Linked DNA regions of Homo sapiens. The protein of the gene in region 1 purifies or fractionates together with the protein of each later gene. This does not show direct contact. Each region holds a gene or a part of one and is shown on either strand. Other genes may lie near its edges.

Evidence for each region. The genes of interacting proteins can lie anywhere in the genome.
Region 2: the proteins of COLEC10 (region 1) and COLGALT2 purify together in Homo sapiens (affinity purification with mass spectrometry; 3 studies listed by BioGRID and IntAct, with this or other methods). This does not show direct contact.

What each region holds. Positions count from the first base shown.
Region 1 is NC_000008.11:119,062,803-119,070,246, reverse strand, and holds the start of COLEC10 (collectin-10 isoform 1 precursor), read right to left. Parts: upstream 3,001-7,444; 5' UTR 2,966-3,000; coding exon 2,818-2,965; intron 2,574-2,817; exon of another isoform or gene 1,465-2,573; intron 1-1,464. UniProt on the Homo sapiens protein: Lectin that binds to various sugars: galactose > mannose = fucose > N-acetylglucosamine > N-acetylgalactosamine. Acts as a chemoattractant, probably involved in the regulation of cell migration.
Region 2 is NC_000001.11:183,971,702-183,978,728, forward strand, and holds part of COLGALT2 (procollagen galactosyltransferase 2), read right to left. Parts: intron 6,820-7,027; coding exon 6,709-6,819; intron 3,514-6,708; coding exon 3,396-3,513; intron 2,050-3,395; coding exon 1,915-2,049; intron 1-1,914. UniProt on the Homo sapiens protein: Beta-galactosyltransferase that transfers beta-galactose to hydroxylysine residues of collagen.

The DNA of each region.
Region 1 (7,444 bases):
AAAGTTCACATTGGTTATCATAATTCTTAAAAGAGGTCTGTGATGAAGGCTCATTTTGCAAATGAAGACACTGAAGTGTAACAGATGTAACAACATGCTGAAGATAATCAGATTGACTCCAGTGCCTTTCTTTCCACTAAACCATGTCTGGGAAATAAGACTTTAAAAATAATATCTGTATATTGGTCAATATATTCTATGACTGGTTAGCATTACTGGGTTTTCACAAATGCCATTCTGCAATTCTAAATAATTCATTTAGTTTTCACTCTCCCAGATGAATTTAGGGAAAATTCATTTCACTGTTTCCCAGAGTATCTAGAAACTTCTGAGCACTGTGCTGCAGTGCTAGTAAATACAGTAATGAGATGATTAGCCATGAAGAAAAGTATTAAGACTAGCTTGATCTTAGGGGAAAAATATTGAAAAAACAGTAATAACGCAGACCTTTAAAACACTTACTTAACCATCATACTATTCTTTTTAATTTTGTAGAGGTAAATATACATATCTGCCTTATTTTGGAGTGGGGAGGGGTTGTCACAGTATTCATGAAGGAACAAGGTAGAGTAGATGGCAGTTTACATATATATATATATATATATATATATATATATTTTTTTTTTTTTTTTTTTTTTTTTGAGATGGGGTCTCACTCTGTTGTCCAGGCTGGAGTGAAGTGGCATGATCATGGCCCATGCAGGCTCAACTGTCTGGACTTAAGCAATTCTCCTGCCTCAGACGTCCAAGTAACTGGGACTACAGGTGTGCACCACCACACCTGGCTAATTTTTAAAAAATTATTTTAATTTTTTGTAGAGATGGGGTCTCTTTATGTCACCCAGGCTGGTCTCAAACTCTTGGACTCAAGTGATCCACCTGCCTTGGCCTCCCAAAGTGTTAGGATTGCAGGCAACACACCTGGCCCACTGTTCATATCTTAAGAGAAGGTATCATGTCTTGGTTTCTGGTGTACCCATATCATCTAGCATGGTGCCTAGAGCACAGGAAAGGCAGTGATGAATATACTCATGTTGCTTTAGGTGCATTTAGGTGTGTAGGAAATTTTCAAAGAAAAAGCATAAATTGGTGCCGGCCTCAAGAGTTTGTAATAGAATACAAAGCTTGGTATGTAGATGCGAGAGCTAGGACAGGTTACTTATCTTAGCTTCCAACCCCTAGCATCTAACATGATGCCTGGATCTTAGTAGGTATTCAGTACATTCCAGGATCATGGATTTCTTTATTAAGAACAAAATTTATTAAATTTTATTAAGAATTTATTTTATTAAGAATTTTATTAAGAATAAAATTTTATTAAAAATAAAATTTGGAGTCCATGTGATACAGTTTCCAGGCTCTGGATGAAGAAGAGGAAATCACACCCAAGAACATAACAGACTTAGTTCTAGAACCCACGGTTCTAGAACACCGCTTCCCAAGTCCCTCTCCCCAGGATCACTCACTTCATTTTGTCACACTCTGGCTTGTAATTATCTCATAATGTCTGCAGATGCTCAGGAGGAAAGTTAATGAGATTTCCACTGTTTGAAGTTTTAACAGGGTTTCTAATGGGAAAATGGGAAGGGAGAAGTTTTCTATTAGGTAAAAAATAGTGCTATTCTCAAATGGATTCTCCCATTTGCAGGGACAAGGAAAACTTTAATTTTCAATGCCCCCATGACACCCCAGGAATAATCTAAAGTTTCCTATACTCTAAGGAAACTTCAGTAACGGTTTTAAGCAAATACTTTATTTCTAATCAAAACTTTCTTTCTGAACATTTGCCCTCGCATTATTCATTTATTCACCCAAGAAATTATTTGGAAGCTCTAAGCTCTCATTGTTCCTCACAGCATTTATTTTATCGTATCAAAGGTTAAAACTTGGATTGCAATCTTAGAGGAAAATTAATTCAGTGATTAAGAAAAATGCACTTTAAGCAATACACATTTAAATAACTGACAGGCATGGGGCAATGTATTTCTGAATTTTGTTTTTTGGAAAAACACTTTTTTCTACTTAAAATTTTAGGCAGCTGCAATTCTTCTACCCTATAGCCTGGAGAAACAGCATGAATTACTAATAAGGGAGCACCAATCTGCAGTGCAGTGACCACTTTCAGAACAAAAGGGTGAAAGCTAAAACCAGAAAAATAGATTTTTTAAAATCTACTGGTTGCTTAAAGCATATTTGGACCTTGGCTGTACTTGAGAACATTTTGCAATATTCTACCATCCTTGAGCAGAAGGCATTTGGCCCCAGAGACTACACTTCCAAATAAAGAAATGTTCATTTATATACTACCTTCAATGCTTGACAAAATGTTTCCATCCTCTACGTTGGAACTCAGGATCCCATTAACTTATGAAATATATATTTAAGATTTAAGTTTTATGTTACTGACCTTTTGCTTAAACAGCTTTACCAGCATCAGTATTAGAAAGGAGGAGAGTACAAACAGTGCAATAATAGAGGTGCTTTTAAGGAAGGAAAGGGCTTCTGGAGACTCATGCCTGGATTGTGCATCTGCCCCGGAGCAGAATGGAACAGGGAATTTCCCCCTGCCCTGGGTAAGTTCCCTCAGATCTCCGTCCTGGGTTTCCCCTTCCCAACATCCTCTTACCTAACATCAAAGGAGAGCTTTAAATAAGTAACAGACCAGATCTGGAAAATCCTGATTTTCCAAAATAGAAGGAAAATGGGAGGAAACTAGGGAGGAGAGAAGAGAAAGTCATTGAAATCTAGGAAGGGGTTCAGAGATGAGGGAAGATATCATATTTATTATACATGAAAATTGTGGTTTTCTTTCCTCACCTTTGGGTCCTGGTGAAATTGTGTGTGTGGCACAGACTTCAGCGGTAGGACGGCTATCAATATCCAGACCCAGACTCTGAATTTGCAAAAGAAATAGTACCAGGAGGATAAATTGGTTTCTTCGAAGCAAGGATGCAAAGCCATTCATTGCTGTGGTTCCTCAGAAAAGGGTCTCCCAGAAATGCCAAATAAACAGCTTTATTTTAAATAAAACCTCCTGCTTTGGGGAAGAAGGGGAAGTATTTGGAACACACATTCCAAAAAGGGCTACAGAGACAGGAAGGAAGCATACCCTAGGTTGTTTATTTTCTCAGTGCTCCAAATGGACCATACATTGTCCAGACTGTTTATTTTCAAGTGACAACAGTTTATTGAAAATTATCTCTGAACTCCAGTGTGCATGTCAGTAGAAACATCCCCAAGAACAAAGAAGATAGAGATGCCTTCTGCTGAGTACTTGAGCTGACAATTTAATAGGCTATATTGCATTTAAACGCTGAGTTTCAGAAAGGTTGTGAACCAGAGAGGTCTTCAGTTAGCAACATGTTATGCAAACACCGTGCATGGCTTTGAGCTTTTCATAAGGTGATATTTATTACCTGCTTGTGCCTGTTGAACACTAATGCTTCCAATGCCCTCCATGACCTTCTTACTCTTGCTACCAAGATTATTCTCTTGTGATTAAATTCAAAAGGAAAGAACAACCAGCTTTTCTGTGAAGCAACTTGGTGATAAGTATTAGGAATATTAAAATGTTTATTACCTTTGGCCTAGTTTATAGCTTTTAGCCTTTCTGGTACACTATCTCAAGGAAATATTCTGAAATGTGGGCAAAGCTTCATTTGAAGGGATGTGGCAGAAAGGCGAAAGGCCTTCAATTGCCTAACAACGTGTTAACAGTGGGCAAATTACGGTAAAATATATGAGAGTGTATGACATGACAATTTTATTAAAATGGTGTTTTCAGCAAGTCTTTTACAAAATAAGGGGGAAAAGCTTGTGGTATTATGTTTCATAAAAAGCTCAACAGATTTAGATGTAGAGTATGTAGATCAGATACAGATATAGATACAGAGATCAGGATCTCTATCTATTCCACAAACCTATAACCTGTACAAATAGTATGGGCATAGTAAGATATTGGAAGATTGGAACCAGAATCACATATATTGGAGAGGCCCCTTACCTTCTCCATTCTTGAACAGCATCTCAACTAAGAGTTAGGTGAAAGGGATTTTGGACCTGCTTTCCTTGAAATTGGAAAAGAAGGACCTTACAGATCCTGATACAGACTGACTGCTGAAAAAATATCCCTAAGAGATGTCGTTACAAGTAACCATCAATCCAAGAAATACAGGTGCATTAGTTTCCTAGGGCTGCCATAACAAAGCACCACAAACTGAGTGGCTTACACCAGCGGCCGGGTGGCTAAAACCAGTGCCAACCCTTTTGGCACCAGGGACCAGTTTGGTGGAAGACAATTTTTCTATGGGGAAGATGGGGAAATACTTTCAGGATGATTCAGGCAGGCACATTACTTTTTCTTTTTCTTTTCTTTTTTCTTTTTTTTTTTTGAGATGGAGTCTCGCTGTTGCCCAGGCTGGAGTACAGTCGCATGATCTGGGCTCACTGCAACCTCTGCCTCCCAGGTTCAAGCGATTCTCGTGCCTCAGCCTCCTGAGTAGCTGAGATTACAGGTGTACACCACTGCACCTGGCTAATTTTTTGTATTTTTAGTATGGTTGGGGTTTCACCAGGTTGGCCAGGCTGGTCTCCAACTCTTGATCTCAAATGATCCATCCACCTTGGCCTCCATAAGTGCTGGGATCGCAGGTGTGAGCCACCATGCCTGGCCTCAAGCACATTACATTTATTGTACACTTTATTTTTATTATTTACATTGTATTATATAATGAAATAATTATACAACTCACTATAATGTAGAATCAGTGGGAGACCTGAGCTTGTTTTACTACAACTAGATGCTCCCATCTGGGGATGATGGGAGACAGTGGCAGATCATCAGGCATTAGATTCTCCTAAATATCAGGCAACCTAAATCCCCACATGCACAATTCACAATAGGGTTTGTGCTCCTATGAGAATCTAATGCCGCTGCTGATCTGACAGGAGGTGGGAACTAAGGCAGTAATGTGACTGATGTGGGGGCAGCTGTAAATAGAGATGAAACTTCGCAGGCTCACCCACCGCACACCTCCTGCTGTACAGCCGTGCTCCTAACAGGCCACAAACCGATACCAGTTCGTGGCCTGGGGACTGGGGACCCCTGGCTTAAACAGCAGAAATTTGCTTTGAGGTATTGGGGATCAGAACTTCAACACATGAATTTTGAGGTGGGAGGAACACAATTGAATACATCACAACAGGCCTATAGTATAACTGACTGATTTTTTCATAAGCAGTACAGGGAAGGAAACTAGCACTGATTGAATAGTCATTATATACAGGCTGAGAGCTAGTCTCAACTTGCGTTTATCTCATTTAGTCTCAAAATAGTCCTGTGGATTAGATAGTAGTCCTTTCATTTTGCAAACAAAGTAGCTGAGGCTCAAAGAAATTAAGCAGTTTGAGTAAGGTCATCCATTGAAAAAGTGACCAAAAAAAAAAAATCAAATACAAATTATTTCCCAAAATCCTGCTTTTAAAATACTATTTGGTTTCCATAAAGATGAACATTCTCAAGCATTGAGGATGCATTAATTTTTCACAAACACTTAAAATGTCCAAAGTGGATGCATTTGTCAGGTTAACAGTGATAGAAAAATACTGAGAATTGAATGATGTTAGAAACCTAACATTTTACATGTGTCATAGCCAGATATGTGACATAGAGCAAATCACATAATGTCAATTGCCACTAGGCATGTAAAATGAGTTTGGACTTCATATTTAACATTGTTTCTAAATTCTATGATTCTAAGAAAATTGATACTCTTTAAATTGTTTAGACTACCCTAAGTCTACTTCACTATTTGTTTATTTTCAAACATTTCCTGGCATACAATAAGAATAGAATCATTGCATTTATATATAGAAATTAACTGGTAACCATTTCAAACAAACAATAGTCCTTAAAAAATTTTCTTGGCATATTCTGCCCCCCTCCTTTTTTTACTCAATAAAGCATATAAATACATTCCTATATAATGTGTACTATACTACATCAAAATTTAAATTGCTACAGAGAATTCACATATTTTATATAAAACATTATTTAATTTTAAAATGGGAAAGATGATTGAATACATAAAGTGGTTAAATTATGTTAAGTATATTGTCTTTAGTGTGCAAAAAAATAGTGCTTCCCAGAAAGGTTTCTACTGACATTTAAAAGGGTTCAGTCTTGTTTATTCAGAAAATGAAGTCACTGAGAACAACAAGCCAACACTGTTTTTGCCTTAAAACGTGGTTTTAAAATAGACAACAAGCCAATCAAGTTTACAGATGGCATAATAGTGGAAGAGATTAATGGTAAATCTAAAAAGAAAAGAATTAGTAGCTAGTTTATAAAACTGTCTTCATAGTTCTACTTTTTTCTGACTGCTTTTATCTTTCATTTCCCAAGATATTGGAATTCCAGGCTTAGCTTTGTGTTTGTCCAAATATGACATGTCATTAAAGTAAATAACAAGTGATATTTGCCTCGTTATTCCTCTACTCTTTTCTTTTTTTTTTTTGTGAATTGAATTGTGGCCTTAAAAAATATATATATATATCCACATCTAACCCAGGAACTTGTGAACATGACCTTACGTGACAAAAGGGTCTTTGCAAACATAATTAAGCTAAGAGTCTCAAGATGAGATCATCCTAGATTATCTGGGTGGACCCTAAATCCAGTGACAAGTGTCCTTAGAAGAGACACCCAAAGGAGGGAGACAGAGATGAAAGGAGAAGGCCAGGTGAAGACTGAGGCAGAAATGAGAGTTACGCAACAAGAAACTAAAGAATGGGCTTGCAGCCACCATAAACTGTCAAAGGCAAGGAGTGCTTCTCCCCTACAGCCTGCAGAGCAGAGTTCTCTACTACCTACAGCTTGATTTTGTACTTGTGGCCTTGAGAAGTATGAGATAATAAAGGTCCGTTGTATTAAGGCACCAAGTTTGGGGTAACTTGTTATGGCAGCCCTAAGAAACTAACACACCATTCTTGTGCTCTTCATCCACAGTAACTGGAAGAAATGACACATCAAAACATTTGCTCAGTGCCTGACAGAGACCCAGCAACATCTGTTCTTGTGCATTTTAATGATCATGCCTCCAGCTTCCTGATATTTTCCTGGAAGGAAAATAAATTCCAGGATACGAAAAAAGCATATCCTAAGGCAGAAGTATTTTACTAGTTAAAACAGCATAACAGTACAATGACAACCTCATCTCCAGAAGGGATTTCTTGACAAATTGATATAACTCAACTTTGGACTTGGTTTCAGCTTTGTCCATTCAAATAAGTAATTAGTGGATTAAAGTCCTCTCTTGTGAGTTAATTTAACTTTATACAGTTTGTAAAAAATGAAAATTAGTAGAATGACTTTTAAAATAATGCATTTAGAAAGTAACATGCAAACACATAATAATTTCTTTTTTACATTTCAAATTTCATATTT
Region 2 (7,027 bases), on another chromosome or scaffold:
TTCATCCAGTGGTGTACTGGACCACACATTGTTAAATTTTCAGAAAGTTTGCAAACCAGTTGACATGTTGATAGCTTGGAATCCATAAAAACAAAAATCACGTTAATCCCCACCACTCTAATGACACCTCATGTGGCAGTTTTACATGTTTTTAATAGCTGTATCATCAAGTGGCTATACTGCAGTTTACTTAACCTTTCCCTTAGCTTAACAACATTTAAGCTGTTTGCATGGTGGGAGTATTTAAACCATAAAAATTGGCAATGCTACCAACTAGGGTTTTTCCCACAAAGAGCCAGTTATTAAACATTTATCAGCACACTACTGACCTTATTTCTCATCCAAAACAAAACCAAATATAAAGGGGAGACTCAAACTTTAGCCCTTTGGCCATGAGAATACATTGAACATACTCCCTCTTTTTTTGAGACAGGGTCTCAGTTGCTTAGGCTGCAGTGCAGTGGTGTGATCATAGCTCACTGCAGCCTCAACTTCTTGGGCTCAAGCAATACTCCCTGCTCAGCCTCCCGAATAGATGGAACTATAGGTGTGCACGACACCACAACTGGTTAATTTTTTGATTTGTTGTAGAGATGTGGTTTCGCCATGTTGCTCATGTTGGTCTCAAACTCCTGGGTTCAAGTAATTGTCCTACCTCAGCTTCCCAAAGTGTTGAAATTACAGGCATGAGACACTGCTCCTGGCCAACATATTTTGCTTAGCACATTTTTATCCTACATTGATACATATTACATTAATCAGTTGAATTTATCTAATTCTTTAATTAAAGAATAAAAAATATAACCAGCCATGAGCATTCACTAAAACAGACCACTATTTTGAAGATTTTACTATGAAAAAAAGAAATAATAAAAAATCAAACCTTTTTTAACTTGAATTTTATAAAAATAACCTACCATGGTAGTTTTCATTATTAGAACTCTTTGGAAATAAATTTGGCAACATACATCGAAGGTCATTGAAATATTTGTACTTTTTTTTTTTTTTTCTTTTTTGAGAGGGAGTCTCGCTCTGTCACCCAGGCTGGAGCGCAGTGGCGCGACCTCGGCTCACTGCAAGCTCCGCCTCCCAAGTTCACGCCATTCTCCTGCCTCAGCCTTCCGAGTAGCTGGGACTATAGGCGCCCAACACCACGCCTGGCTAATTTTTTATATTTTTAGTAGAGATGAGGTTTCACCATGTTAGCCAGGATGGTCTCAATCTCCTGACCTTGTAATCCGCCCGCCTTGGCCTCCCAAAGTGCTGGGATCACAGGTGTGAGCCACCGCGCCTGGCATATTTGTACTGTTTGACTCAGTAATTCCACTTCTAAAAAGCTATCCTAAGGATATAATCTTAAATGCTGAAAAATTATATTAATCATGACGGTCACGATAGTTAAAAAGTTGTGAATAATTTAAATGTTTTTCAAACCGAGATAAAGGTTAAGTAAATTGGAACATAGCCACTTGATGATAACACAGTTACTAAAAACGTGCAAGTTTCTATCTATGATGTTGTTACGGTGATGGGGATTTAACATCTGTCTTGTTGGTTTTCTTTTAAACTTTTTTTAATTTCTAAGTTTTTCTATAGTGTTCTTATGTTAGTTTTGTAAGGACAAAAAGAATTAATTAAAAATAGTAATTCCTGAATCAGGAATTGGCTAATTTGACGTTTCTAAGGCTAAGCTCTTTAGACTATTTTTTTCATAATAAATTAACACAGAAGAGCCCAACTGGGTGTAGCATTGGACCCAGATTTACTGCCCTTCCTAAAAAATGCTTGCTCTGGGAACACAATGACACGCATGTTTCAAGGGAGTAAACAAGAGAAAGGTGAATGGGACTACTGTTGACCGGGTGTTGCCTTGTTAAAACTAGTAGCCTTAATTCATTTAAGCAAAAGACTTGCCTTAGGGGTGATTCCGCACCAGAAATTAGAATACAGGCCCCGAGACTCCAGCATGGGGGCCACAATAGTTTTGTTTTCTGCAATCAGTAGATTGAGGGTCTGTGGATTAGTCAGGAAATTGTCAACATCTATGAACTAGGAAAAGAAAAGGATAATGTTAGGTGAAAAGGTACTTTTCAGTAATGAGTTTGAGAATAACCCAGCCCTTCTGAAGGATCCCAGAAACTTGCTCATGACATATGGAACCAGCTATCTATGTCCTCCTTATTGAAACCCATTGCAGCTAGGTGGCTTTCATTCAGTCAAAATATATTTAGTCTAACTTTCGTATGTTGGGCTCTGCATAAGGCACTAAGCAGTAAATTGGTGCTGCCATACTGGGCATAGCCTCAACCAGGAACCAACCTACACTTTGGCTAGTGTTTTAGGCACAAGATATTAATGGCTCCCAAGCCATTAAAGGTTCATTCAAAAACACTTATTGGCTGCCCAGTCTAGGTACAGATGGGCATGCCTACTTAGCTTTTCTATAGTAATGCCAGAGTAGCTCAAAACAGATCTATCAATGAATTTTAATGTGACAAGTAGAATTTTTGTTTAAGTACATTATATCAACCCATGCTAACCAGTGAAGCTATTTCCTATTCTTAGAAGTCCATGTTAACAGTGATTTATTTAGAGACAGTATAACAACAGATTCTAATTTATAAAAGAAATAATCATACTGAACTATACACTGAAAAAGGGATAAACTGACAGATTTTACCTTTTGTAGGTTTTATCACAATAAAAAATTCAGAAGTCTTCATTTTTATGATAGTCCATCTGTTTACCCCAAATTTTGTGATTTAACATTTGTACACTTCAATGGCATTTAAACAGCTACACAATGTTAAATATTGTCAGTACAATTTGAAAACTTCTATGAAAGGATTTGTGTCACAAGTGTGCGTGATACATTTTTGGGCAGATTTTCACTGTGGTTGAGGGGATGGGGATGGACATAAATTCTCCAAAGAGAGCATCACTGTGCCAAGCAACAGATGCTACTCCCCAGATCATTCAGGAGCAAAAGGGAACCATTTCAGAGCTGTTCAGCTGAATCACTTTTTTAGATAATTACTTTTTCATATCCCCCAAATTCTTCCAAAAAGTTGTAAGAACAACTTACATTGCTTTACCTACAGCCTTTCCTGTGAGCTAAAAATATGCAGAGTTCTTATGCCTGTTGCATGGCAGAGACCAAATAATTCAGGCACTTCTTCACTTACCCACTGAAAATGCATGTGGGCCTGAAGATGAAGTCCAGGTAGCCCAATTTTAAACTACCAAAAATTTCATTGTGCCTTTCTTAAAAAGTGGGGGAGGCACTGCCTAATCAAAAAGGTTGTTTTGATTGCTTCCATGGTTCTAGTTTTTGGACGACTGATTTGGATACACCTGAGATGACAGTTGTCAAGAAATCAAACATCTGTTTTTACCAGAATGTAGTCTGACCATTTTTCCCTCGCAGTTCGAAGGGCTGCCTGTCGTAGTTTCATCACATGGGCAAACCGGGAGGTTGGCCAGTGCTTTGGTCCAATTTCATCAGGGTAAGACCTAAAATAATAATAATAGCTCATCATTATTGAGTGCCTACATGTACCAGGCTCTGTCCTAAATGTTTATATGTATTCATTTAATCTTCTATCAATCCCAGGAAGTAGATACTATTATTATTGTTATCATCATCCCCATATTACAGATGAGGAAACCGGAGCAATGAGAAGTCAAGTAACTCACTGCTCATTGTATACAAGAATCTTTACATGAAATATTTCAGTGGGTTCTAATGAGAGCCCTTTGAGGTGAGTACTGCTATTCTCTGCATTTCACAGGTGAGGATATCAGGGTAGAGCAGTTAAGTCATTCGTCCAATGTTACACAATGGGGCACAATCAAGATTTGAATCCAAGCAAAAAGCTCATGTTCCTAGACAATTTTTATACATCCCGACATCGAATAGATTTGGAGAGTATGCAGTGTAAAACATGAGTTTCCCAGGAAAATCAAAGGTTTAATCTACTTGTTGGAGTCTCCACAAATGATTCCACACAGCCTAACACATTGATCTATCTTAGGTAAAGTGAGGTCGTGGGATCTCTATCAAGATTCACAAAACAGCCAGGCCAAGACTCCTTCATGGCCACATAGGCAAGTGGGTTGGAGCACGCTCCAAAACCCTTCTGAAGGCACCCAGCTGGCACGGACATTGATACTGTTGCAGTAACCCAAAACTGGCCACCACTTCAAGATCTCATAGCTGCACTGGCAGTACATTTGTTTTAGTGAGTGAAAAACTGCAAAAACAATGAGACTGTAACTAAACAAATAAGGTTAATAAAACTATGTACAGCACAGGAATTCTCTGGAATATCTTCCCCAGTTATTGTTTCAATGAAAATCAGTGGAATTCTCATTTTTCTAAATATATTCCCCCCAAAAATGCCTGTTCTAATATTTTTTCACACTGACCTTGGCATATAATATATTTAGTCAAAACCTGGCTGCAGAGAACATTACCAAGGTGCAAAGAAGGGACACAAAGTATTTCTGTGCCATTTTTGTTAGGCCAAACTCCATTATAAGGCACTCTAAAGGAGTGTTTACAATCTTTTACGGTGTTCAGACTTCACTGTTAAATTTTGCTTGATATACAGTCCATGGGCTTGGATTTGAGAAACACATATGTATATATTATATCATATTTATATATATTTCTTTATAATATAAATATTTATAATAATTCTTACATATAGAAAGACTAGAAGAACAGAAACTTGTTCTGGAATGGCATTTATTATTACTATAATACAAATTTGGCTTTCAATAAATGACTTCTCTGGGGAAGAAATTCAGGCAACTCCTTCATTCTATTTCTACAGTTCCTTAAAGTAAAACTGTAGTAGCTTTGGGAACATTTATAATAGTAAGTTTTAAATACATTTATTCTTGTTCTTATTTGTTCATCCAACCAGTATTAATTTAGTGCCTGCCAAGAACATGGCTCTGAGGGGAGAGGGGGAATATAAAGTGTTTATATATTCTAGCCCCTGCCAAAGAACTTACAACTTATTTAGAAAAAAAATACATTAATTGCATAGGGGGAAAATGTTGGTTGCGTATATCATTGTGCCAAAAAGGATGACATAGAATATAAGCAATACAATTGTTGAGACAAAGGTAGATATTTATAACTGAGTGATTAAGAATAGGTTTCTATAGTAGGCATGATTTAGGATAAGAATTAGTTATAAAGAAGGAAAGGGTCTTCCAGGACCTGCACAAGCAACAGTGTGGGGTTTGGAAATAAAAGAAACGTTCTGGATAAAGCACATTTTCTTTTGGTGCTAAATTCATGGAATTTTAAAAATATAAGTCTTAGGTGTTTGAACTTTGTTCAGGTCCTAAAGAGTAAGTGAAGTATTTTTAATAAAGAAATGAAACCATTTCATTTGTATTTGAGGTAGATTGATTTGACTGTATGGTATGTAGGATGACTTGGAGATAGAAGCAATTAATAAATTGCTATGGTGGCCGGGCACGGTGGCTCACACCTGTAATCTCAGCACTTTGGGAGGTCAAGGCGGGCAGATCACAGGGTCAGGAGATCGAGACCATCCTGGCTAACATAGTGAAATCCCCTCTCTACTCAAAATACAAAAAAATAGCTGGGTGTGGTGGCACACACCTGTAGTCCCAGCTACTCGGGAGGCTGAGGCAGGAGAATTGCTTGAACCCAGGAGGCGGAGGTTGCAGTGAGCCAAGATTGCACCACTGCACTCCAGCCTGGGTGACATAGCAAGACTCTGTCTCAAAAAAAAAAAAAAAGAAAGAAATTGTTATGGTAACCAGGCACAAAGGCTCACACCTGTAATCCCAGCACTTTGGAAGGCCAAGGTGGGAGGATCGCTTGAGGCCAGGAGTTCAAGACCAGCCTGGACAACATGGTGAGATCATGTCTCTACAAAAAATAAAAATAAAATTAGCCAGGCATAGTGGTGCATGGCTGTGGTCTTAGCTACTCAGGAGGTTGAGTGAGGAGTATTGCCTGAACCCAGGAGTACGAGGTTACAGTGGAGCTATGGTCATGCCACTGTACTCCAGCTGGGGTGACAGAGTGAGACCCTGTCTTGAAAGAAAGAAGGAAAGAGAGAAAGAGAGAGAGAGAGAGAGAGAGAAAGAAGAGAAGAGAAGCGAAGAAAAGAAAAGAAAGAAAAGAAGGAAAAGAAAGAAAGAAGGAATTTCTATGGTTAAGATAGGAAATTACCTAAATGAGCATCAGTAGGGGATCAATTAAATAATTATGGTAAATGCACATACAACAGTGATTATGCAGTAAAAAAAATGAAAATTAGCTCCTTAACTATTGCTATAGAATGATTATCAAGATAAAAGTTGAAAAAAGCAAGCTCTATGTAGAAAGTATACACATTTTCAATATGATCCTCCAAATATAAAAGTTTGTTTAAAATATGAATAAATAATATCAATATTTAAAAATATAAACTGTCATGGCAATTTATTTATGAAGTAATGAAAATCTGAACTTGGCTGGCAGCTGTGGGAGTAAACAGCAAGAGAGTACTGTGAAGATCTCTAAAAGGGAGAAATGGCAGATATTCAGAACTCACATAGCTACAGAAATGAAAGACAATGAAAAGTCACATGTACCTCCAAACCTGGAAGCCCTAAAGAGCTAGTTAAAGAGGAAGGGTAAATAATGAGTTTACAAATTTCGCACTTGCTACTCACTCTGGTTCATCCATAGGCCTCCACTCCACATAGTGATAGAGTCTCTGTACATTTTTCAACCACTCCCTGAATATTTCTGTTGTATTATCCACATTGTGATCAGTGGCTGCCCTGCATGAGAGAAAGCACAATATAGTTTAACTATGTCATCCAATGAAAGAGAGGGAAATCCAAAAGACCCCTGACTAACTGAAAGAAGAATGGCTACTCCTGGAAAAAAAATTGTATATATGAAAATAATTCCCTCATAGTCCAAACTAGACAATAAATTTCCAAAGTGAGAGACACTGCTTAAAATCATCTTTGTGTCATTAGATCC